7 linked regions of the Homo sapiens genome follow. The protein of the gene in region 1 purifies or fractionates together with the protein of each later gene. This does not show direct contact. Each region holds a gene or a part of one and is shown in the gene's direction. Other genes may lie near its edges. The genes, in order: SLCO6A1, RBM28, RBM34, SDAD1, RRP12, SEC62 and HERC5.

Region 1 (3,500 bases):
ACCTCAGTTGGAAATGCAGAAATCACCTGTCTTCTATGTTGCTCACGCTGGGAACTGTAGACTGGAGCTGTTCCTATTCGGCCATCTTGGAAGTGCACCCATTGAGTATTTTCTTGACCCTATCCAGTCTACTGAGGAGGTCATCAAAGACATTTTTTTTCATTTCTGCTGCAGTGTTTCTGATTTCTCACATTTTATTTTGATTCTTTCTTAGAGTTTCCATCTCTCTCCTTACATTACTTATCTGTTGTTGCATATTGTCCATTCTTTCCAATAGAGTCCTGATATGGTTTGGATTTGTGTCCCTGCCCAAATCTTATGTTGACTTGTCATCCCCAATGTTGGAGGAGGGTCCTGGTGGGAAGTGATTGGATCACGGGGGCAGACTTCCCCCTTGCTGTTTTGTGATAGTGAGTTCTCAAGAGATCTGGTTGTTTAAAAGTGTACAGCACTTCCCCTTCACTCTCTTCCTCCTTCTCTGGCCATGTAAGATGTGACTGCTTTCGCTTCACTTTCCACAATGATTGTAAGCTTCCTGAGGCCTCCCTGAGGCCTCCCCAGCCATGCTTTCTGTACAGCCTGCAGAACTGTTGAGAGGTGACAGCGTGCTGGCAGTCCTCACAGCCCTCGCTCGCTCTCTGCACCTCCTCCGCCTTGGCGCCCACTCTGGCCATGCTTGAGGAGCCCTCCAGCCTGCCGCAGCTCCGTGGGAGCCCCTTTCTGGGCTGGCCAAGGCCGGAGCCGGCTCCCTCAGCTTGCAAGAAGGTGTGGAGGGAGAGGCACGGGCGGGAACCGGGGCTGCGCACCGCGCTTGCGGGCCAGCACGAGTTCTGGGTGGGCGTGAGCTCAGTGGGCCCTGAACTCGGAGCCACCGGGCCACCCGCAGGCCCCAGGCAGTGAGGGGCTTAGCACCTGGGCCAGCAGCTGTTGTGTTCAATTTCTCGCGGGGCCTTAGCTGCCTCCCTGTGGGGCAGCGCTCGGGACCTGCAGCCTGCCATGCCTGAGCCTCCCCCACCTCCGTGGGCTCATGTGTGGCCCAAGCCTCCCCAACGAGTGCCGCCCCCTGCTCCACGGTGCCCAGTCCCATCGACCACCCAAGGGCTGAGGAGTGCGGGTGCACCGTGCGGAACTGGCAGGCAGCTCCACCTGCGGCCCCGGTAGGGGATCCACTGGGTGAAGCCATCTGGGCTCCTGAGTCTGGTGGGAACTTGGAGAACCTTTATGTCTAGCTGAGGGATTGTAAATACACCAATCAGCACTCTGTATCTAGCTCAAGATTTGTAAACATACCAATCAGCACCCTGGGTCTAGCTCAGGGTTTGTGAATGCACCAATGGACACTCTGTATTTAGCTACTCTACTCTTGTGGGGACTTGGAGAACCTTTGTGTGGACACTGTGTATCTAGCTAATCTAGTGGGGACATGGAGAACCTTTGTGTCTAGCTCAGGGATTGTAAACGCACCAATCAGCGCCCTGCCAAAACAGACCACTCGGCTCTCTGTAAAATGGAGCAGTCAGCAGGATGTGGGTGAGGCCAGATAAGATAATAAAAGCAGGCTACCGGAGCCAGCTGTGGCAACCCCCTGAGTCCGCTTCCACACTGTGGAAGCTTTGTTCTTTCGCTCTCTGCAGTAAATCCTACTGCTGCTCACTCTTTGGGTCCACACTGCCTTTATGAGCGGTAACACTCACCGCGAAGGTCTGCAGCTTCACTCCTGAAGCCAGCGAGACCACGAACCCACCAGGAGGAACGAACAACTCCAGATGTGCCACCTGAAGAGCTGTAACACTCACCATGAAGGTCTGCAGCTTTGCTCCTGAGCCAGGGAGACCACGAACCCACCAGAAGGAAGAAACTCGGAACACACCCGAACATCAGAACAAACAAACTCCAGACATGCCGCCTTTAAGAACTGTAACACTCACCGTGAGGGTCCGCGGTTTCATTCTTGTAGTCAGTGAGACCAAGAACCCACCAATTCCAGACACACTGTGAGTCAATTAAACCTCCTTTCCTTATGAATTATCCAGTCTCAAGTAGTTCTTTATAGCAATGTGAAAATGGACTAATACATGTCTTTAGCATATTGATCATAGTTATTTTATTTTTTAATTGACATATAATAATTGTACATACATATGGGATAAAATGTAGTATTTCAATTTATGTTTATATTGTGTAATGATCAAATCAGTATAATTAGCAATCCTTTGCCTCATATATTTATCATTCCTTTGTGGTGAGAACATTCAAAATGCTCTCTTATAGCTATTTTGAAGTATACAGTACATTATTGTTAATAGGGTGACTCTAGTCACCCTACTGTGCAACAGAGCACCAGAATTGATATCTCCTATCTAACTGTAACTTAGTACTCATTGACCAACCTCTGTGCATCCCTCCTTCCACCCTCTCCAGCCTCTAGTAACCATTATTCTACTCTTTACTTCTGTAAGATCAACCTTTTTAGATTATACATATGAGTGAGAACATGCAGTACTTGTCTTTCCATGTCTGGCTTATTTCACTTAACATGATGTTCTTTATCCATGCTGTAGTAAAAAACAGGATTTTATTCTTTTTTATGGATGAACAATATTCCATTATGTATATATACCACATTTTCTTCATCCATTCATCTGTCAATGGACACTTAGGTTGGTCCATATTTTAACTATTATGAATATTGCTTCAATAAACATGGGGATGCAAATATTTCTTTGACATACTGATTTTATTTCATTTGAATATATATCCAGTAGCAGAATTGCCGGATCATTTGGTAGTTCTATTTTTAGTTTTGAGGAACCTCCATACTGTTTTTATAATGGTTACTCTTACATAAATTCCCACCAACAGTGTATAAAGGCTTCCTTTTCTATACATCCTTGCTAATACATATCTTCTGTCTTTTTGATAACAGCCATTGTAACTGGATATCTTATGATTTTGATTTGCATTCCCCTGATGATTAGTGATGTTGAGCATTAAAAAAAATAGATCTGATGATCATTTTTATGTCTTCTTTTGAGAAATGCCTATTCAGGGCTTTTGCCCATTTTTAAATTGGATTATTTGTTTGTTTGTTTGTTTTGCTATTGAATTGTTTGAGTTCCTTAAATATTCTGGGTAATAATTTAAATTTCTGGAAATCCCCCTTTTCCATATGATTCTGTTTTAGAGTTTTCCACTGAGGGTAACGTATGCGATGTTTGGAAGTTTGAAGAGAAGGAGAGGAGAGTCATCCTTCTCCAGAGATGTTTGCAAGCAAATCCTTGCAGGTCTGAGGTTGCGTGTATCCTGCTGAGCATTTAAAAACCACCCACTTTGCTCCTGCAGGCTGATGCAGCTCTTGGGAACTATTGCAGAAGCTCTTGAGCATTGCTCAATTTCTTGATGACTTTTTAAAGAAAATAAAGGGGAGAAATAGCAGTGGGGCATACCCCTAACCAAAGGGACTCTAACTTTTATGCTTCTATGCTTTCTATGCTTCTGTC
Region 2 (4,272 bases), on another chromosome or scaffold:
TGTGGTCCTAGCTTCTCAGGAGGCTGAGGTGGCAGTATTGCTTGAGCCCAGGAGATCAAGGCTGCAGTGAGCCATGATGGTGCCACTGCACCCCAAGTTGGGTGACAGAGCAAGAGTCTGCTAAAAAAAAAATTATTTAAAAAATGGCCTTGGGTACTTTTTTTTGAGCTAGTTGTTCTGCAAGGTGTAGCTCTCTTGCACCTATTCAGGTCCTGAGCCCAGTGGCATGGCAAACACTCTCTGTGTTCCAGAACCAGGAGCACCCAGATTTCCTAGCCAATTAAGAGCTCTCAGCTTTGGGTCTGTCTGATGAGCTGACTTGAGACAAAGATCTTCTGTTTCTAGGAGGACATGGGTTCTAGGTCTCTGTGTATAAGTTGGATGTTATGTTTGCTTTGAGTGTGTTTGATGTGGTCCTGCAGTGTGTGTGCTGTGATTTATTTGTAAGAATTTTTGGACTAATAGTCTTCCCAGCCAGGTGTGGTGGTTCACACCTATAATCCTAGCACTTTAGGAGGCTAAGGGGGGCTAATTGAGCTCAGGAGTTTGAGACCAGCCTGGGCAACATGGTGAAACCCTGTCTCTGCAAAAAATACAAAAATTAGCCGGGTGTGGTGGTGCACCTGTAGTTCCAGCTACTCAGGAGGCTGAGGCAGGAGGACTGCTTGAACCTGGGAGGTCGAGGCTGCAGTAAGCCGAGATCGTGCCAGTGCACTCCGGCCTGGTTGATAAAGTGAGGCCCTGTCAAAAAAAAAAATCTGTTTCCACCATTAGACTGTAATCTCTATGAGGGCAGGGACCCTGTCATTTCTTTGCTCACCAGTTTTATCCCTAATGCTTGGCTCATAGTTAGAGCTCAGTATATATTTATTGAAATAATAATTGTGTACTATCTGTGTCTATGTGTATTTTAGTAGCTACAATTTGTTTGTGAGGCTGAGGTGACAGACAGCTGGTGTTCTCCGAAAATGAGAATCGTCCGAATGATGTATATGATATATCTATGTCTACGTGTTAGTGTTCCGGTTGTGTTTTATGCACGTAATCTGGGAATTTGTGGAGGCACTTCAGAAAATATCAAACACCCACAGTATATCAGATCCTGAGTTACGCCCGGGGCAAAAACGACTTCTTCTGCCTGTCCTGCTAACTTTGGGGAGGATCTGGAGGTGAGATTTTTAAACAGGGTAGAAATTATTTATTTTTATTTTGTATATTAAGAAAAAAAATTACTTTTTGGAGGCCTTCCGGCAAAAACCAGAAAGCCTGCTAGGCAAATTCTAAAAAAGCTGTAACACTAGGGTAGAAATTATTGATGCCAAGTTTACACAAAAGTGGCGAGGGCGATGCTAGGGCAGGGGGCGGAGCCCCGCTCCAGAAGCTACGCCCCGGGGCGCCATTATTTTTTCATTCCGGAACCTTTTATCCCCCTCCCGACCATGTTTTCCTCCGGTCTCTTTTGGGCAACGAGCACTTCCGGAATCTCTCGGCGTGTGAGCTTGGTTGTCCTACCAAAGCCAGCGTTTCGGCTCGCGTGCGCCGGCCTAGTTTGCTCGCGTCCTCACGCGCTTTGGGTTTCCCGGTCTCATGGCCGGCCTGACCTTATTTGTGGGCCGCCTCCCGCCCTCGGCCCGCAGTGAGCAGCTGGAGGAACTGTTCAGTCAGGTGGGGCCGGTGAAGCAGTGCTTCGTGGTGACTGAAAAAGGTAGGGGCGGGGCGGTCGAGGATAGGGCTGGGGTTTCCTGCGATCGAGGGCACCTTCCCAAACTTCAGGGAGCCGTATCATTCTTTACCCTCCCCGAAGAGAAGGGACAGGGAACTGAGTTTCTTTTCCAAACTGATTCTGCTTTAGATGCGTTCATAGGAGTCAGTTTATGAAGGGCAAAGCATTCCCTTACGTTTCTATAGCGCTTTCTGTTGATTATGCGCGCTAAAAATGAAAATAGTTAACTAGAGCATCAGTAAGACTTATTGAGAGTCACCTGATTGGCAGGTACAGTGATCAGTTTGATACAGGTTATCTCATTTAATTTTCTCAGCAATCTTACCGGATGGAGAGTCTTAATGTCATTTTACAGACAGGAATCCGGGATTTAGGGGAATTTAGTAACTTTAAGTTTGTACGGCTGTTAAGTAGTGGACCCCCGATTTGATCCTCAGACCTGGACATCTTAGCCAGGATGCTATCCACTTGTTCATTCATTTATTCAGCAAATACTTAATACCTACTGTGTGCCAGGAAGTGTTGTAGGTCCTGGGGATGCAGCAGTGCACAACACCAAACCAAAAAAATCTTTGATTTTATGTCTTCAAGGTGGGGAAGAGAGCCAATAAACGAGCCAATAAACAAGCCAACCGTGAAAATGATGTCAAATGCTAAGGAGAAAAATAAGCCAGGGAAAGGGGTTAGGAAGTCTATGTGCATGTGTATAGTGGGGAGAGGGGGTGAAGAGTGGCAATATAGATAGGGTGGCCAGAGAAGGACGGACTGAGGTGAGAGAGTGAACACATGCCTCTCCGGAGGAAGAACAATTCAGGAAGAGAAAACAGCAAGCTCAAAGGTACTGAAACAGAGGTGTTTTTGGTATATTGGAGGAGTAGTAAGGAGGACAGGGTGACTGGATTGAAGTGAGTAAAGGGAAGAGAATTAGGAGATGAGATCTAGAGTAGCAGATCATGTAAGATTTTTTTTTTTTTTTAAAGACTGCGTCTTGCTCTGTCGCCCAGGCGGGAGTGCAGTGCCACGATCTCCGCTCACTGCAACCTCTGCCTCCTGGTTCAACCCATTCTCCTGCCTCAGCCTCCCAAGTAGCTGGGATTACAGGCGAGTGTCACTACACCTGGCTAATTTTTGTATTTTTAGTAGAGACGGGGTTTCGCTATGTTGGCCAGGGTTGTCTGGAACTCGAGACCTCAGGTGATCCGCCCGCCTCATGTAGGATGTTATAGACCATTGCAAGGACTTTGGCTTTTACTCAGAGATAGGAAGCCACTGATTTTAAGCAGAGAGCAGTAAGTGTGATCTGGCATTCGTTTTGAAAGATTCTCTCTCTGGCTGGTGTGTTGCCAATAGACTGTTGGAGAATAGGACAAAAGCTTATGTACTTAAAATAGGGACCGAAAGTCCTGTACAGTAATGTTTATTAAACTGCAGATTATTACCTATTAGTGGGTCTTGAGTGGGTCATGACTAGAGTTTGTTTTGTTGTGTTTTAGAAACAGGGTCTTGCTCTGTCAACCCTGTTGACAGTTGGAGTGCAGTGGTGCGATCACAGCTCAATGTAACCTTAAACTCCTGGGCTCAAGCAATCCTCCTACTTCAGCCTCCCAAGTAGCTATGACTACAGACGTGCTTCACCATGCCTGGCCAATTTTTGAATATTTTTTGTAGAGACAGGGTCTCACTACGTTGTCCAGGCTGGTTTCAAATGATCCTCCTGCCTTGGCCTCCCAAAGCACTGGGATTACAGGCATGTGCCACCACGCCTGGCCTAGAGTTCTTAAAAAATTAAATAGTATAGGAGTACGTCCATATATGGTAAAGGATAAGTATTTGTAAAACTTTTAAGTTTTAAATAAAGAATATATGTATGTACTGGGTTCCAGTGTAAGTAGCATTCCGTACCCAGGTGGTTGTATTCCAGGGAAGAATAGGCCATTGAATGGGAGTTCTCCTTTGAGTCCTCAGAATATAGGCTACATGCAATCTTACCTTACACCTTGTGTACTTGGTCTAAATCCTTAAAAATCTCTTACTTCCTTTTAAAAAACTATGCACTTTCCTATCCAGACAGCTGATATGTACTGGAAAGAGTGCTGCACTCAGTGAAACGGGAGGGAGGGTATGTGGAATGAAGTCTTCCTCAATAGCAGTGCATGTCACTTCACCTCTTTAAGATGGGAATAATTTCACAGGGTTGTCAGGGACTCTAAATGTATGTGAGCATGCTTTATGCAGACATGTAAAATGTGTGGTATTTACTGTATGTCCTTTCATTTGGGTGTCAAACTCTTTTACATTTCAGCTGCTTTACTTTTGGTTGTACTGATCATGAAGGGCTATGAATTTTCTTGTGCTCATTTTCTGAAAGGTGAGTGGGCAGCTTTTATGATAAGGAGTTCAAGAGAAGAGAAAAATTGATGTTATGTTGCTTTAACCAGTTTATGTAGATCAGTGTCCTGTGTCAAAGGGCTTATACCCTGAAGGAGATTCAAATGCAGTGGAAAGAGAAGCAGAGCATATGAACTATGTGTCCTTTTCAGGTAAAGGCA
Region 3 (3,500 bases), on another chromosome or scaffold:
GGATATACTCTTGTCTAATTTGCTCAGCATAATGATTTTGAGGTTTGTTTTTTTGTGGGGGAGGGTTGGTGGAGGGGAACAGTGTCTTCTGCTGTTGCCCAGGCTGGAGTTCAGTGGCACGATAATGGCTCACGGCAGCCTTATCACCTGGGCTCAAGCAGTCCTTCTGCCTCAGCCTCCTAAATACCTGGGACTACAGGTGCTCGCCACCACACCCGGCTGATTTTTAAGTTTTTAGTAGAGCCAAGGTGTCACTAATGCCCAGACTGGTCCTGAACTCCTGAGCTCAAGTAGCCCTCCTGCCTTTGCCTCCCAAAGTGTTGCAATTACAGGCTTGAGCCACCGTGCCTGTCTGAGATTTGTTCTTATTATTGCAATGCATTGGTAATTAATTCGTTTTTATTGCTCAGTAGTATTCCCTTGTATGACAGTATTTGTTTATCCATTCACCTGTTTATTGTGTTGTGTTGTATTTATTGTGATGTATTGTACTGTATTGTACTGTATTGTATTGTGATGGAGTCTTGCTCTGTCGCTCAGGCTGGAGTGCAGTGGTACCATCTCGGCTAATTGCAACCTCTACCTCCCGGGTTCAAGTGATTTTCATGCCTCAGCCTCCCAAGCAGCTGGGATTACAGACACATACCACCATGCCCAGCTAATTTTTTCATACTTTTAGTAGAGATGGGGCTTTGCCATGTTGGCCAGGCTGGTCTAAAACTCCTGACCTCAGGTGATCCGCCCGCCTCAGACTGCCAAAGTGCTGGGATTATAGGCGTGAGCCATCGCACCCGGCCCCATTCACCAGTTTATGAACATTCAGGTTATTTCAGCCTTTGGCTATTATACATAAAACTGCTAAAAAAAATTTGGGTACGGATCATTTCTTTTGAGAAACTGCCTGGTCGGATTGCCAGATCTTACGGTATATTGTAACTTTCTAAGAAGCTGCAAAATTGTTTTCCAAAGTGTTTGTACCATTTTACATTCCTACCAGCTATCGATGAGAATGTCAGTTGCTTCACATCCTCACCAGCACTTGGCATTGTCATTTAATTTTAGACATTCTGAAGGTTTGTCAACCACAGTGACTAAAAATGTTAGGCATCTTATGTGCTTACTATTTGTATCTATTCTTTGGTGAAATGTTGGTACAAAAATTTTGCCCATTTTTTAGTGACTTTTAAATTATTTTTATATGGTTGTAAGGAGTTATTTATATATTCTAGATATAACACCTTTTCCTGCTATGTGTGTTTCAGATATTTTGCTCCAGTTTGTGGCTGGCTTTTTTAGAGGTGTCTTTTTTTTTTTTTTTTTTTTTGAGATGGATCCTTGCTCTGTCACCAGGCTGGAGTGCAGTGGTGCGATCCCAGCTCACTGCAACCTCCGCCTCCCGGGTTCAACTGATTCTCCTGCCTCAGCCTCTCAGGTAGCTGGGATTACAAGCGTGCGCCACCACACTCGGGTCATTTTTGTATTTTTAGTAGAGACGGGGTTTCACCATGTTGGCCAGGCTGGTTTCGAACTCCTGACCTCAGATGATCCACCCACCTCTGCCTCCCAAAGTGCTAGGGTTACAAGCATGAGCCACCACACACGCCCAGAGGTGTCTCTTAAAGATTGAAAGTTTTAAGTTTTATTGAAGATCTCATTTAGAGAGTGCTGTTGTTGGCCAGGCACAGTGGCTCACGCCTATAATCCATTACTTTGGGAGGTCAAGGTGGGCGGATCACCTGAGGTCAGGATTTTAAGACCAGCCTGGCCAACGTGGTGAAACCCCGTCTCTACTAAAAATACAAAAATTAGCCAGGAGTGGTGGCGTGCGCCTGTAATCCCAGCTATTCTGGAGGCTGAAGCAGGAGAATCACTTGAACATGGGAGTTAGAGGTTGCAGTGAGCCGAGATCATGCCATTGCACTCCAGCCTGGACTGCAAGAGAGAAACTCCGTCTCAAAATAAAAAAAGTGCTATTGCTTGTCAGTTGGCTTGGTAGTCTGGTGGGAGTGGGCGCAGCAGGGTCTCTGCTGTCTTGTCTTAGTGTTTCCGTGTCTCAGGAGTGCACCTGATCAGGGCTTTTTTCCCGGGGCAGCCAAGCTGTGCCAAATGCCTTGTACCTTTAGTGGGGATTATGCAGAGGATGTTTCCCACCTCTCCCCCGGTAGCTGGACTCCTCCCTTCCTCCGGCTGTAGGGGTCTTCTCTGTGCCCTGGAGTGACAGGGTTTGCTATCCCTCCCCTAGCAGCTTAGCCTTCTCCTCCATCAAGAGAATGTGTCCGGAATTGGTGGGTTCTTGGTCTCACTGACTTCAAGAATGAAGCCGCGGACCCTCGCGGTGAGTGTTACAGCTCTTAAGGTGGTGCGTCGGGAGTCTGTTCCTTCTGATGTTCGGATTTGTTCGGAGTTTCTTCCTTCTGGTGGGTTCGTGGTCTCACTGGCTCAGGAGTAAAGCTGCAGACCTTCGCAGTGAGTGTTACAGCTCTTAAGGCAGCGCGTCTGGAGTTGTTCGTTCCTCCCGGTGGCCTCGTGGTCTCGCTGGCTTCAGGAGTGAAGCTGCAGATCTTTGCGGTGAGTGTTACAGCTCATAAAAGCAGCGTGGACCCAAAGAGTGAGCAGTAGCAAGATTTATTGCAAAGAGTGAAAGGACAAAGCTTCCACAGTGTGGAAGGGGACCCGAGTGGCTTGCCACTGCTGGCTAGGGCAGCCTGCTTTTATTCTCTTATCTGGCCCCACCCACATCCTGCTGATTGGTAGAGCCGAGTGGTCTGTTTTGACAGGGTGCTGATTGGTGCATTTACAATCCCTGAGCTAGATACAAAGGTTCTCCATGTCCCCATCAGATTAGTTAGATACAGAGTATCGACACAAAGGTTCTCCAAGGCCCCACCAGAGCAGCTAGATACAGAGTATCGATTGGTGCACTCACAAACCCTGAGCTAAACACAGGGTGCTGATTGGTGTGTTTATAAACCTTGAGCTAGATACAGAGTGCCGATTGGTGTATTTACAACCCCTGAGCTAGACATAAAGGTTGTCCAAGGCCCCACCAGAGCAGCTAGATACAGAGTGTCGATTGGTGCACTCACAAACCTTGAGCTAAACACAGGGTGCCGATTGGTGTGTTTACAAACCTTGAGCTAGATACAGAGTGCCGATTGGTGTATTTACAATCCCTGAGCTAGACATAAAGGTTGTCCAAGGCCCCACCAGAGCAGCTAGATACTGAGTGTCGATTGGTGCACTCACAAACCTTGAGCTAAACACAGGGTGCCGATTGGTGTGTTTACAAACCTTGAGCTAGATACAGAGTGCTGATTGGTGTATTTACAATCCCTGAGCTAGACATAAAAGTTCTCCAAGGTCCCACCAGAGTAGCTAGATATAGAGTGTCGATTGGTGCATTCACAGACCCTGAGCTAGACACAGGGTGCTGATTGGTGTATTTACAATCCCTGAGCTAGACATAAAGGTTGTCCACATCCCCACCAGACTCGGGAGCC
Region 4 (3,500 bases), on another chromosome or scaffold:
AAAATACAAAAATTAGCCGGATGTGGTGTCGGGCACCTGTAATCCCAGCTACTCAGGAGGCTGAGACAGAATCGCTTGAACCCAGGAGGCGAAGGTTGCTGTGAGCCGAGATTGTGCCCTTGCACTCCAGCCTGGGTGACAGAGCAAAACTCTGTCTCAAAAAGAAAAGAAAAGAAAACAACAACAACAAATTGGTTTCTCAAAGCAAGTCTTCTTGTAATACTGTAAATACTCATGGAAAATTCTTTTTTAAAAAATTGACGTTTTATTGCATCTTCATAATAGATATTAAGATTTGATCTCACTGCTCACATTGACCTTGCATGCATTCTCAATGAAAAACAACACAAAAGCAGGAAAGAAGAGATGATTGTTCTTGTCTTTGAACCTGAACCAAAGTAGGAAGGAAACTAACATTTATTCAGTATCTAACATGGACCAAGCACTGTGCTAAGTGCCTTACATACGTCATTTTGTCTAATCCTCACATTAATCTTGTGAGGTATACAAAGAGAGGGAAAAAAAAGACTAGAGTCACTCAGCAAATAAATGGAAAATCAGGATTCACCTCACTTCTTTTGCCAGTGGCCTTGTTTGTTACCTATGCTATGCTGCCCCTTTGAAAAGAGACAGTGTGTGTGTGTGTGTGTGTGTGTGTGTGTGTGTGTGTGTGTGTGTATGCATTCATTCAGCAAGTATTTATTTAATGATTTTTATGCCAGGCACTGCATTAAGACAGTACGAATTCCACAGTAAACGTAAAACAAGGTCCTTACCCTCATGGCTTACATCTGGAGGCAGATGTAGATGTGCTATATATAATATGTCCAGGTAAAGATAAGTGTTTTGAAGGAAAAGGAAGCAGGATAAGGACAATAGGGAGTGTCGGGACGGGTTCTGTTTTACATTGTGTGGTCAGGAGAGACTTTTTGATAAGGCAGCTATTGAGTAGGGACCTGAAGAAAGTGAGGGGGTAAGCCAAGCAGATATCTGGGGATTGAGTGTTCCAGGTGGAATACGCAGCAATACCATTTAGACCAGAATGAGCTTGCCATGTTTGCTGTGGTCCTCAGAGGCAGGGTGATACACTGACCATGACCTTTCTGTTCTCTTATGTTTTCAGAAGTAACCAAGATCCTTCTGTTTGCTGCACAAGCATCTCATCACCTAGTACCCCCAGAGGTGAGAACCTGTAACCTGACTTCTGGACCTAGGGCATGGATGACAGTGTTACTGTTAGGTACTTCAGGGTCTATCGGGGGAACCTGCCCCCGATAATTCAACGTGGGTTTTTTTCTATTTCTTGTCAGATGGTCTGAGAAATGAAGGGAAAGAGTACAAAAGAGAGAAATTTTAAAGCTGGGCGTCCAGGGGAGACATCACATGTCGGCAGGTTCTGTGATGCCCCACAAGCTCCAAACCAGCAAGGTTTTATTAGTGATTTTCGAAAGGGGAGGGAGTGTAAGAATAGAGTGTGGGTCACAGAGATCACATGCTTCACAAGGTAATAAAATATTACAAGGCAAATGGAGGCAGGACGAGATCACAGGACCAGGGCGAAATTAAAATTGCTAATGAAGTTTCGGGCACGCATTGTCATTGATAACATCTTATCAGGAGACAGGGTTTGAGAGCAGACAGCCAGTCTGACCAAAATTTATTAGGCGGGAATTTCCTCATCCTAATAAGCCTGGGAGTGCCACGGGAGACCGGGGCTTATTTCATCCCTTATCTACAACCTTAAAAGACAGATGTCCCTAGAGCGGCCATTTCAGAGACCTACCTCTAGGAACACATTCTCTTTCTCAGGGCTGTTCCTTGCTTAGAAAAAGAATTCAGCAATATTTCTCCTATTTGCTTTTGAAAGAAGAGAAATATGGCTCTGTTCTGCCTGGCTCTCAGGCAGCCAGACCTAATGGTTATCTCCCTTGTTCCCTGAACATCGCTGTTACCCTGTTCTTTTTTCAAGATTTCATATTGTTTAAACAATTTGTGCAGTTAACACAATCATCACAGGGTCCTGAGGCTACATACATCCTCAGTTTATGAAGATGACGGGATTAAGAGATTAAAGACAGGCATAGGAAATCACAAGAGTATTGATTGGGGAAATGATACATGTCTATGAAATCTTCACAATTTATGTTCAGAGATTGCAGCAAAGACAGGCATAAGAAATTATTAATTTTGGGAACTAATAAATGTCCATGAAATCTTCACAATTTATGTTCTTCTGCCATGGCTTCAGCTGGTTCCTCCATTCGGGGTCTCTGACTTCCCACAACAAGGGTCATTTTTCCCACAAGGGTTACTGTCCCCCCTTCCCTCACCGTTTTCTTCTTTTAATAGATAGAAGAGACACTAACTCTTAAGGGGATCTACACAGAAGTTCAGTTGTACGTCTCATAAAAAGAAGTTTCTTTCAGACAAGTTGTTTAGAATTCTGATTTTCTTTAATAAGCAAATTTTGTATAACTAGGGGAGGTCAAGAATATTAGTAAATTTATAGAGTAATTCCTTTCTTTGATTTAGTCTGAGGATAGCCAAGAAAAACACTGAATTCCTAAGTGGAGTGTTTTCTTCTGTCTTCCTTAATCTTGATTACTTCCAATTCCTAAACTGAAGGTGGAAGGCTGGGTTTTCCACTATGAATAATCTATTGTCCTTTCATTCTTATGTGTTTGTGTATGCAGACATTTAATCAGCACCCATCTCTTTTTTGTTTCCAATTCAGATTATTCAATCATTGCTTATGACTGTGGCAAACAATTTTGTTACCGACAAGAACTCTGGAGAAGTCATGACAGTAGGGTATGTAGAATCTGGTTGGAGGCAGAAGATACATTGTTTAATGGACTAGATTTGCTATAAGTTACCAAGATGTAAGATTGTAGCTGGTAGTATCACCTCTATAAAATTGGTTTAAAATATATTTCAGTCTTTTTGGGAGGCTTGATAATTTTTTTATTGGTCAGAATTTTGAGAAGGGAGCCAGAGAAAAGATACTTTTCCTTCTAATTAGCATTTTTGTTTTTTAGCAGTTTTACTTTTACAGATGAATAATTGATTAGCAAACTAAGTGCTTTTCTTCTGATCTCCCACCGTAAACTTTGTACTGCTAATAAAATAAATATTTGGCTCCTAGTTCTGGAGCTGGGAAGTCCAAGGGCATGGCATTGGTGTCTGTCTGGCACCTGGTGGGGGCCTCGTTGCTGCATCATTGGCAGAAGGCACAAGGGGAAGAGAGCACAAGAGCCAACAGAGGGCCAAACTCACTTTTTTATAACTCACTGGTGATAAGGGACCTTCTCCCAAGATAACAACATTAGGCCTAATCACTTCTTAAGAGTCTCTCCTCTTTGAACTACAAACCACTGCTCAACAAAATAAAAGAGGATACCAACAAATGGAAGAACATTCCATGCTCATGGATAGGAAGAATCAATATCATGAAAATGGCCATACTGCCCAAGGTAATTTATAGATTCAATGCCATCCCC
Region 5 (3,500 bases), on another chromosome or scaffold:
TCTGGCCCTCAGCCCCCCTACCTGGTGGGTCCTTCCTGCTTGACCCACGTTGGTCTCTGTCCCCAGAGGCCCTGCAGTGCTACCTCGTCCTGATCTACCCTGGCCTGGTGGGCGCGGTGACCATGGTCAGCTGCAGCATCCTGGCCCTGACCCACCTCCTTTTCGAGTTTAAAGGTAAATGCTTATTTCCTAGAAGGCCTGAGAAGCCCTCAGATTAGGAAGATGCCCAAAAGGTCAGGATAAAGTGGCTCCTGGAACTGGGAAAAGGTGCCTGGAGGAAGTAAGAAAAGCCACACCCAGCCCAGTTTGCCTCCCTGTCTCCCTTCCTGCGGGTCGCTGCCTCCCGCCCTTGCGGCTATGCCAAGGCACCTTCCTCAGGTCTGTCCCCACGTGTGACTGTGCAGTCCAGTGGCCCTGCATCCCATTGTCAGAGTGGTTAGGAGGTGGTTAGGGCTGATGCCTGGATTTTAGTCCTAGTCCTGCCTCTTGGCAACCACATGAGACCTAGAACAGCTTGATTAGCCTCTTAGCACCTCAGTTTCTTATCTCTAAAATGGAAGCAAGAAATAGCACCCACCTCAGGGTGACGAAAGGACCCAAGACCACTCCATGGAGCGTGATTGGAACCATCCCGGGCATACGGAAAGGCTCTCAATGTCAGCTTTTACTGACACTTGAGTGGCTGTTTTCCAGTGGGGAAGGTTTGGGTCTGAGTGGGGTCCTGGGTGTCTTAGACAGTGACCCCCTCACTGCCACAGGTCTGATGGGGACCAGTACAGTGGAGCAGCTGCTGGAGAATGTGTGCCTGCTTCTGGCCTCCCGCACCCGTGACGTGGTCAAGTCTGCACTGGGCTTCATCAAGGTGGCAGTGACTGTCATGGACGTGGCGCACCTGGCCAAACATGTGCAGCTGGTGGTGAGTGTCCCCGTTCCCCTTAGCAGGTAGCAGGGTGGCCTCTGAGCTGTTGGCATGGACCTGGCAAGCTTCGAGGCCAGCAAGTTTCAAACTATTTTTTTTGTAGCCAGAGGTCATTAAGGAGCCCTAAAAGGGACCATAGGGGAATGCCTGTCAGGTGGAGGCGAGGAGGGGGCACACTGCCCAGGTGGCTTTCTTCACCCCAGAGCCCTACATGGAAAGCAACAGGGGCTCTTCAGGGCAAAGGCCCATGGGCAGGGCCACTCCTCATTTTACAGATGGAGAAACTGGGCCAGAGATTTTCCAGATCATGGGACTCAGACGCTGGGCTCTCCCTCCACAGGACCCCCTCATCTTGCCTTTTTTTTTTTCCCATCTTGCATTTTGACCTTGCTGGTTAGAGGCCATTCCTTTGGGTCCCCTGCTGGGCTGCAGAAGGATCTGAAGAGCCCCTTGGTATAGGGTCCCTGGCCCTCTCCTGCCCAAGAGAAGCCTTGCCCAGGCTGGCGTAGGCTTCCAGCCAAGCTGTGCACTGTACCTACTGCCTCAGTTTCCCATGTGTGACTGGCTTGAGTCACATCAGACCTCTGGGTCCCTCTTGCATATTTTCTTTGGGTCTGGCCTTGGGTTCAAGATAGGAAGGGACAGATGAGAATCAGCATGCCCTCCCGCTGCCCTCGGAGCCTGCAGCCTACTAGGGACCAAAGGTGGGGAGAACAGCTAGAGCAGTGATCCATCATGGAGTTATTCGAATTTATACAAGCCCTGGCCGGCTGCAGTGGCTCACACCTGTAACCCCACCACTTTGGGAGGCCAAGGCAGGCAGATCACTTGAGTTCAGGAGTTTGAGACCAGCCTGGCCAACATGGTGAAACCCCATCTCTACTAAAAATACAAAAATTAGCTGGGCGAGGTGGCAGGTGCCTGCAATCCCAGCTACTCGGGAGGCTGAGGCAGGAGAATCACTTGAACCTGGGAGGCGGATGTTGCAGTGAGCCAAGATTGCACCACTACACTCCAGCCTGGGTAACAGAGCAAGACTCTGTCTCAAAAAAAAGGGATTTATAGAAGCCCTTCCAAGAGTGGTTGGGGAGGCCAGGAGCGGTGGCTCACACCTATATTCCTAGCACTTTGGGATGCCAAGGTGGGTGGATCACTTGAGGTCAGGAATTCGAGACCAGCCTGGCCAACATGGTGAAGCCCCATCTCTACTAAAAAATACAAAAATTAGCCAGGCATGGTGGTGCGCGCCTGTAGTCCCAGCTGTTCATGTGGCTGAGGTGTGAGAATTGCTTGAACCTGGGAGGCGGAGGTTGCAGTGATCCGAGACCATGCCATTGCACTCCAGCCAGGGTGACAGAGCAAGACTCTGTCTCAAAAAAAAAAAAAAAAAAGCCAGGCACAGTGGCTCACACCTGTAATCCCAGTACTTTGGGAGGCCAAGGTGGGCGGATCGCCTGAGGTTGGGAGTTCAAGACCAGCCTGGCCAGTATGGTAAAACCCTGTCTGTACTAAAAATACAAAAATTAGCCAGGCGTGATAGCAGGCACCTGTAATCCCAGCTATTCAGGAAGCTGAGGCAGGAGAATTGCTTGAACCCAGGAGGTGGAGGTTGCAGTGAGCTGAGATCGTGCCATTGCACTCCAGCCTGGGCAACAGAGCGAGACTCCATCTCAAAAAAAAGGAGTAGACGTGGACCCTATCCCCTAGCCGGTTTGGGAGTCACTGGAGATAAGAAGATCTGCCACCTGCACATGTAACCCAAACTGGGCCAGATGAAGGCTTAAGAGGAATCCAGCCAGAGCAGAATGCAGTGAGATGGAAGGGACATAGGGGACCAAGAGAAATCTTGGGGTGCTAGGGGCAAAGCGGGAGCCGCAGCATTAGATGAGTCTGGGCTGAACTCCCACCTCTATGGCCATTTAGCAAACACTTTATCCTCTGTGCCGCCGTGTCCTCTTCTATAAATAGGGGGTGATAGCATGTATCTCAGGGGTAGTCCAAGGATTCAAGGAGAGGATATATGTCAAGTACCAAGTGCTGTTGAGAAGACTAAAGCTCTCATCCTGCGAGGGTGCTCAGGCCTGTGTCCTGAAGGAGGGTGCAGGGGAAAGATGGGGCCTGCCCACCCGAGGGAAGCATGACTGGGCCAGGGTGTGGGCCAGGAGCAGGGCCGCGCTAACCCTCCCCTCAGCTGGGCTTGATCATGCTGCGTCCCTGGGCTGGACAGCAGTAAAGGGGGCGCAGCATGGAAGGCTCGCCTCCCTGAAAGCCTGGTGCTCTGTCCGGCAGATGGAAGCCATTGGGAAGCTTTCAGATGACATGCGGCGGCACTTCCGCATGAAGCTTCGGAACCTGTTCACCAAGTTCATCCGCAAGTTTGGGTCTGTGCACTGAGCAGGGGCGGGGGTAGGGCAAGCGAGGGGCCGAGGATTTCCAGTCCTACCAGGGACACTACATCTGGGTCGTGCTGTCTGGCCAGTGCCTCTCACCAGCCCTTCCTTGCCACCTCCAGATTTGAGCTGGTGAAAAGGCTGTTGCCCGAGGAGTACCACAGAGTCCTGGTCAACATCCGGAAAGCTGA
Region 6 (4,176 bases), on another chromosome or scaffold:
ATGGTATAATAAACGCTTACAACCTAACATTAAGTGAAAAAAGCAGCTGCCTTATTGCATATGATCTCAATTTGGGAAACAGGAAAAAATATAAATACAAACACACATGCACACACACACACAAAGTCAGAATACTATAAGAAAATAAACTGAACGGTCACAGTGGCTCACGCCTGTAGTTCCAGTTACTCAGGAGACAGAGACAGGTGGATCGTTTTGAGCCCAGGAGTTCAAGACCCGCCCGGGCAACATAAGGAAACTCCATCTCCACACAAAAAAAGTAAAAATTAGCCAGGTGTGGTGGCTCATGCCTGTAGTTCCAGCTACTCAGGAGGCTGAGGAGGGAGATCAGTTGAGACGAGGAGTTCGGTGATGCAGTGAGCCGAGACTGCGCCACTGCACTCCAGCTTGGGCAATATAGAGCGAAACTCAGCATCAAAAAAAAAAGAACATCTTTCTATTCTGAATTTTCCCAATTTTCTACAATTAAAAACGCTTTAAAGATCTCTATAAAGTCAGTCAAGGGAATTTCTATCTAAGCACTTACCAGCAATTTGAGCTCCTTCTCTTTTGGTCTAGGTGGCTCTAAAATAACAATAAAGGCTACAGTGATTGAAATTCACCAGACTTGAAATAGACTGCAGCCTTCTTCCTTCCCACCTTCTTAGAATCTTTGTCCTATTCATCTTCCTTACGCTTCCCCGGGTTCTCTTACTTCTGGATTCTAACAGTGAGTTGTGAGAAGCAACGCGGAAAACGGAATGGAGACTCCAGCTTGTTTTAAACGAGCTGTATTACCCCGCACAGTGCAGGAGAAAAGATAATTGGCTCAGGTCTCGGCTCTGCCATCTACCACCTGTGGAGCCTTAGATAAGTCAGTTCTTATCTCTGTCACTCAACGGTCTCGGTCTTGTCATCTTTTACATGGAATGTCATGAAATATACAGTACATTGCAGGAACTGCCTCAGGTAAAGACTTCTAGGGTTCAGTAGGTCTCAGTCGATCCCTCTGAGAAAGGCCGCACCCTAAATGCACAGACTCTGACTCTAAGGGGATGGGGTCGGGGAATCTGCATTTTAGTAGCTTCTCAGGTGATTCAGATGCTCAGTCAGGATTGAGAAACCAGGACTCTTCCCAGCCCTCCTGTTCTCTGATCCACTTCTCTGCTTCCTCCACGTCCTAACGATTCTCCAGTTCCCGCACAGCAGGAGCGGAGGGAAGAGGGGAGAGAAGGCACCGCTAAGGACCGCTGGCCCCGCCAGGCGGCCGACCTCCCCATTCCAGGGGCGCCAGCCGGCGGATTACATAACGGGCCTCGGGGCGCGTTCTCGCGAGGTTTCCACCGCCCCCTCCTCGCTCCACGTCAGAGGGAACCGGGCGGAGCGGCCAACATGGCGGAACGCAGGAGACACAAGAAGCGGATCCAGGTAGCAAAGCCGAGCTCTGGGCAGGGGGCTTCGGCGCGCTGGATAGTGGAAGGGGCGGGGAAAGCCCCCTAAAAGGGCGAGCGAAAGCAAGGGCGAGGTGGGGTGGGGTGGGGTGGGGTTCCGCCGCGAGGCAGCTGGCTGCAGGCTGCGCGTTGTGAGGGGCCTGAGGGGGGGCGGTGTTGGCGACGGCGGAGACAGAGACGGAGGTGGTGGTGGAGCAGCAGGGGAAGGAAGGAGGCGCCGCGCTCAGAATCCGGCTGCGGAGGCGCGGCTGTGGGCCTGGAGTTCCTGTGGTCGCGCTGTCCCGGGCCTGAGCTGGAAGGTCAGCCTCCCCTGGGGCGCAGACGCTGACCCTTCCCGGGGCTCCTCCCCTCCCTTCACCCCATCCTCTGGCCTTAGCTGGCCTGAAATTAAGGCCACGGTAATAGGGGTAGCAGGAGGCGGCGGACTGACCTAAAGCAGCTGGTTCTTTGTGCGCATAGACCGTAAGGGGGAATGATCTGGACTTGGTCAGCTGCCTCGGGGCCTAGGCAGGGATCTGCTCATCCAGATGTTCAGTTGCGTTGCCCTTCTTTCCCTTCAATATTATTAACTTAATAGTCCACTTGAAGCTTGCCGGCTTTTTTCCGGGCGACGTGGTGTAAACAACCACAACCTCGTTGGTGCTGCAACGAGCTGGTGGAGCCCAGAAACCTTTCACATGCCAGTGTGTCATCCTCGTAGTAACGTACATAACATCTCCCCCTAATTCCACATGCGTGTCATTTGTGCATTTCTTCCTTGCGATTTTCCCTGGTTCTTGTTCTTTGCCAAGAGGATTAATTATGTAGAACATCTTGGACTCAGGATATTTATTAGTCGTCTCATCAGCTGATGTGCTGAGAAACCTTCATAAGCCCTCAAATTGATCACATGTAGTAAATTGTTACTATAATCATAAATTGTTACATTCATCATTGCCTTTCTGTTCCTTACTATTTCATTGCTTAGAATGATTTTTTCTTTCTTCCATTTTATCCCTTCTTTTTTTTTTTAAGTTTATCGATTTATTGGCGTACAATACAGATGTTTTGAGCTATGCAAGTTAAAATTCTTCTGTAAACTTTTTAAGTGCTGTGAAAAAGACACACATGATCAGTAAATTTGGAATTTTGGAATTTGGCAGAAATAAAGTAGTTCCGAACAGGGTGCAGAAGGGAATTAGAAAGAGGCAGATTTCGAGTTCAGACAGATAAGACTAGGTCTTAAGATCAGTAGAAGTTTCTAATTATACTGTTCTTAATCTTTCAAGAGTTAGTGTTATTCCTCTGACGTGGGTATACAGTATTTTATTAGATTGTATATTGAAATTGTCTGTCAGATTTGTACTTACAGAACTCCTTAGATTTACACTTGACAGTACAATTTTATGCCCTTCAATACACATTGTTTTACAATTCCAGTTGCTCTTTAATATTGTTGTAAGGGCTATATAATTCACCTTTTGAATAGCTGCTCTTATTTAGTTGTGATCTTATATTAAACAGAGGCTGTGGAGTAATGTGACAGTGGCAGAGAGCTAAAACTTGAGCCAAACTGCCTGTTTGTACCCCACCTCCACCAATTATTGGCTGAGTAACTTTGAGCAAGTTAATTTTTACCTCCCTGTCTGCATCGGTAAGAAAACATATTTACCTCAAAAAAAAAAAAAGCAAGAAAAAAGAAAAACTTTAAGATTGCTGTGAAAATAATAGGTGAGTCAACTTATTTATTAAAAGTTATTAAAAGTGTTTGGCACGCAGCCCCTCCCTTCTATTCTACTCCTTACCCAGGATGAAGGATTTAGATTGGATTGTTATTTTATTTTTTGTTAACTACTCTTTGATATGCTGAAGAAAGATTAACAACCCTCTATTCAGTAAACTATTAGGTTGGGAGTTATGTAGAGTATAGCTGTTTACTTTCTATTATTTGAGGATTGATTATTAAAATCTACTGGGCATACTGCAAAATTAAGTGACATTTATTTTTCTGTCCTTGAAATTTTCTACATGGCTGTATAAAATGTTTGTGAGAGATCTTAGAGTACTACTTTCATGCAGCCTAACACACTTATGAAAATATACTAGCCTAGAAAGTACCTCAGTTTTATCATTCCAGATAATCAGAAACTATAATACATCACTTGTGATAAAAAGATCAAATGTAATGAAAAGTTCAGAGTTTAACTTACAAAAAAGATCCTGTTGTAGAATTTTTAGGCAAAAGGTCTGTAATACCAACTGAGTTTCTGTCATTTGTTGCTTGATGTTTTATGTTTAGAAAGATGGTTAATAGATTCAGTGATCTTTAATTATACTTTGCACATTGGGGAGAAATGTTTGATACAAACAAATAAGTTCAGGGTTAAAAAAAAAAGTAGCTAATTTGCTTTTTCTTTGTAATTCAGTATAATTTCAGATTCTCGTGTCCCATCGAAGTTTCTAGCAAGAGGACTGTTGTCACATTTCCTTCTTGGACTCATTACTGGTCACTGAAAACCAGAAGTGAGCTACATGTACTCATACAGTAACTACATATAGATTAACAATGTGCTGCTGCATAGTAGAAGTTGATTTACAATCCTGGTATCAAGAAATTTTAGAGTTTAAAAGGATCTAGTAGGGTTTGTTTGGAAGCCTTTTTCATAAATTCAGTCTTAACATGAAAGCAGAGTGGTGATCCTACAGCTGACTGATCTCACCCAACACCCTCGTTTTTCAGATAAAC
Region 7 (2,272 bases), on another chromosome or scaffold:
ACATAGTGTATTTCAAGTTTTGGACTATTATGAATAATGCTCTTGTGAACATTCTTGTACATGTGTTTTGTTTATGTGCAGGCATTTCTGTTGGTATGTAACTGGGAGAAGTGCTTGGTGCCTTGTGGTTGCCCCTTGCTCCATGCAGGCAGAATCAATGCTCCTACCTGAAATTCATTTGGATATTGATATGGATGATGCCATATGTAAGCCAGAGAGTATGAAAATGTTTAGTACATAATGGGGCTTTTTGGGGAGAGCTGCACAGGCATCCAAGCTGATCTGTTTGGCTTAAGTGAAGAGAGAGGCAGGTGGCTTTAGTTTTTATGGTGGTTCCGTGGGGCCAGGGTCAGGGTTCTCATGCAACCCAGAGCATGCGTGGGGAAATTTAAGCCACGCAGCCATCAGTGGGTGCCCAGGGAGTGAGCCTGTGTTGTGCAGATTTGGAGGCGAAAGGGGAAAAAGGAGGAGTGGGACTTGAAAGCTGTTAGTAAGCAAACATAAAAAATGGAGGCACACTTTCATCAGTAGGGTACGACAGTTCTAATTGCTCTATATCCACTCTAATAGTATTACTAGTCTTTTTTAAATTAGCCATTCTGGTGGGTATATAGTAGTATTCCATTGTGGTTTTAATTTGCATTTCTCTGATTACTAATGTTAAGCACTTTATATGCTTATTGGCTGTTTGGATATCCTCTTTTCAGAAATAATTATTCCTCATCTTTAGTCTATTTTTCTGTTGCTTTTTTTTTTCTTGTCAGTTTATGAGAGTTCTAGATGCAAGTCTTTTGTTGGTTATATGTACTGCAGATATCTTCTTACATACTGTGGCTTGTCTTTTCACTTTTTAAATGTGTCTTTTGATTAACCAAAATTTGTAATTGTAATGTAGTCTACTTTATCAATATTTTCCTTAATGCATAGTGTTTTTCTGTTTTCTATTTTATGAATACTTCCCTATCCTAGGGCTATGAATATATTCCCCTGTATTTTCTTCTAGAAGCTTATCATTTTATTTCTCACATTTAGATCTATGATCCACTTTAATTGATTTTTTAGTAAGATGCAAGGTATGGATCAGGTTTTATTTTTTCAATTTTTGAAACTGATTATACTGAACCTATAGATCAATTTTTTGAAAAAATTGACATCTTAAAATAATGAGGCTTTAATCCATGAATACAGAATCTCCATTTGTTTAAATCGTCTTTTGTCATTCTTGAAAAAATGTTAGGTAGTTTTCTATGTAGAGATCTTGTTGCAATATTCTAAATAGGTTTCTTGGATCATTTATTGTATTTGAATCTTCTCTGTCCTTAAAAATTTTTTTGTCTGCTTTTCTGTTAGTTACTAGGAGAGGTATATTAGCATCTATACTATACATGTGGATATGAGTGTTTCTTTAAGTTTCGTTATTACTAAGCACATAACAGATTTTTGAATTGTTTTACCTTCCTGGTATATGACTCGGTTGTCATTAGTAAATGTACTTTTCTATCCTTGTCTTGTTTGTCTGATTTTAGTATAGTTACACCACATTCATTTTGGTTGATGTTTGCATAGTGTATCTTTTTCCCTTCTTTGACTTTAATCTGTGTTTTCACATTTAAGTTATATATGTTATAAGCAGCATATGATGGAGTTGTTATAAAAATTACATTAGGGCCAGGTGCGGTGGCTAACGTCTGTAATCCCAGCACTTTGGGAGGCCGAGGCAGGCAAATCACAAGGTCAGGAGTTTGAGAGCAGCCTGGCCAACATGGTAAAACCCCATCTCTACTAAAAATACAAAAAAATTAGCTGGGCATGGTGGCAGGCACGTGTAATCCCAGCTACTTGGGAGGCTAAGGCAGGAGAATCTCTTGAACCCAGGAGGTGGAGGTTGCAATAAGCTAAGATCGCACCACTGCATTCCAGCCCAGGTGACAGTGCGAGACTCCGTCTCAAAAAAAAAAAAAAATTACATTAGATAATCTCTAGTAACTATGACAGTCCATGGCACATGGTAGGTACTCAATAACTGTTAGGTATTCTAGCTTTTATTTTTAGCCCCTCACCATTTTGTTCAGGATATTGCAGTAAGTGGAAATAACATTTTGTTTTATTAAAGGAGAGACTATGTTTCTAAGTATATCAATTACATTTTCAACGACTCTGTAAAGGCGGTTTATGAAGAATTTCGGAGAGGATTTTATAAAATGTGCGACGAAGACATTATCAAATTATTCCACCCCGAAGAACTGAAGGATGTGATTGTTGGAAATACAGA

What was found.
Region 2: the proteins of SLCO6A1 (region 1) and RBM28 purify together in Homo sapiens (affinity purification with mass spectrometry; one large-scale study listed by BioGRID and IntAct). This does not show direct contact.
Region 3: the proteins of SLCO6A1 (region 1) and RBM34 purify together in Homo sapiens (affinity purification with mass spectrometry; one large-scale study listed by BioGRID and IntAct). This does not show direct contact.
Region 4: the proteins of SLCO6A1 (region 1) and SDAD1 purify together in Homo sapiens (affinity purification with mass spectrometry; one large-scale study listed by BioGRID and IntAct). This does not show direct contact.
Region 5: the proteins of SLCO6A1 (region 1) and RRP12 purify together in Homo sapiens (affinity purification with mass spectrometry; one large-scale study listed by BioGRID and IntAct). This does not show direct contact.
Region 6: the proteins of SLCO6A1 (region 1) and SEC62 purify together in Homo sapiens (affinity purification with mass spectrometry; one large-scale study listed by BioGRID and IntAct). This does not show direct contact.
Region 7: the proteins of SLCO6A1 (region 1) and HERC5 purify together in Homo sapiens (affinity purification with mass spectrometry; one large-scale study listed by BioGRID and IntAct). This does not show direct contact.

The regions. Positions count from the first base shown.
Region 1 is NC_000005.10:102,489,002-102,492,501, reverse strand, and holds part of SLCO6A1 (solute carrier organic anion transporter family member 6A1), read left to right. Parts: intron 1-3,500.
Region 2 is NC_000007.14:128,341,109-128,345,380, reverse strand, and holds the start of RBM28 (RNA-binding protein 28), read left to right. Parts: upstream 1-1,472; 5' UTR 1,473-1,587; coding exon 1,588-1,705; intron 1,706-4,272. UniProt on the Homo sapiens protein: Nucleolar component of the spliceosomal ribonucleoprotein complexes.
Region 3 is NC_000001.11:235,140,751-235,144,250, reverse strand, and holds part of RBM34 (RNA-binding protein 34), read left to right. Parts: intron 1-3,500.
Region 4 is NC_000004.12:75,963,446-75,966,945, reverse strand, and holds part of SDAD1 (protein SDA1 homolog), read left to right. Parts: intron 1-1,123; coding exon 1,124-1,182; intron 1,183-2,734; coding exon 2,735-2,811; intron 2,812-3,500.
Region 5 is NC_000010.11:97,366,841-97,370,340, reverse strand, and holds part of RRP12 (RRP12-like protein), read left to right. Parts: intron 1-66; coding exon 67-174; intron 175-758; coding exon 759-916; intron 917-3,208; coding exon 3,209-3,300; intron 3,301-3,431; coding exon 3,432-3,500.
Region 6 is NC_000003.12:169,965,431-169,969,606, forward strand, and holds the start of SEC62 (translocation protein SEC62), read left to right. Parts: upstream 1-1,376; 5' UTR 1,377-1,392; coding exon 1,393-1,428; exon of another isoform or gene 1,429-3,161; intron 3,162-3,856; exon of another isoform or gene 3,857-3,953; intron 3,954-4,176. UniProt on the Homo sapiens protein: Mediates post-translational transport of precursor polypeptides across endoplasmic reticulum (ER). Proposed to act as a targeting receptor for small presecretory proteins containing short and apolar signal peptides.
Region 7 is NC_000004.12:88,502,119-88,504,390, forward strand, and holds part of HERC5 (E3 ISG15--protein ligase HERC5), read left to right. Parts: intron 1-2,113; coding exon 2,114-2,272.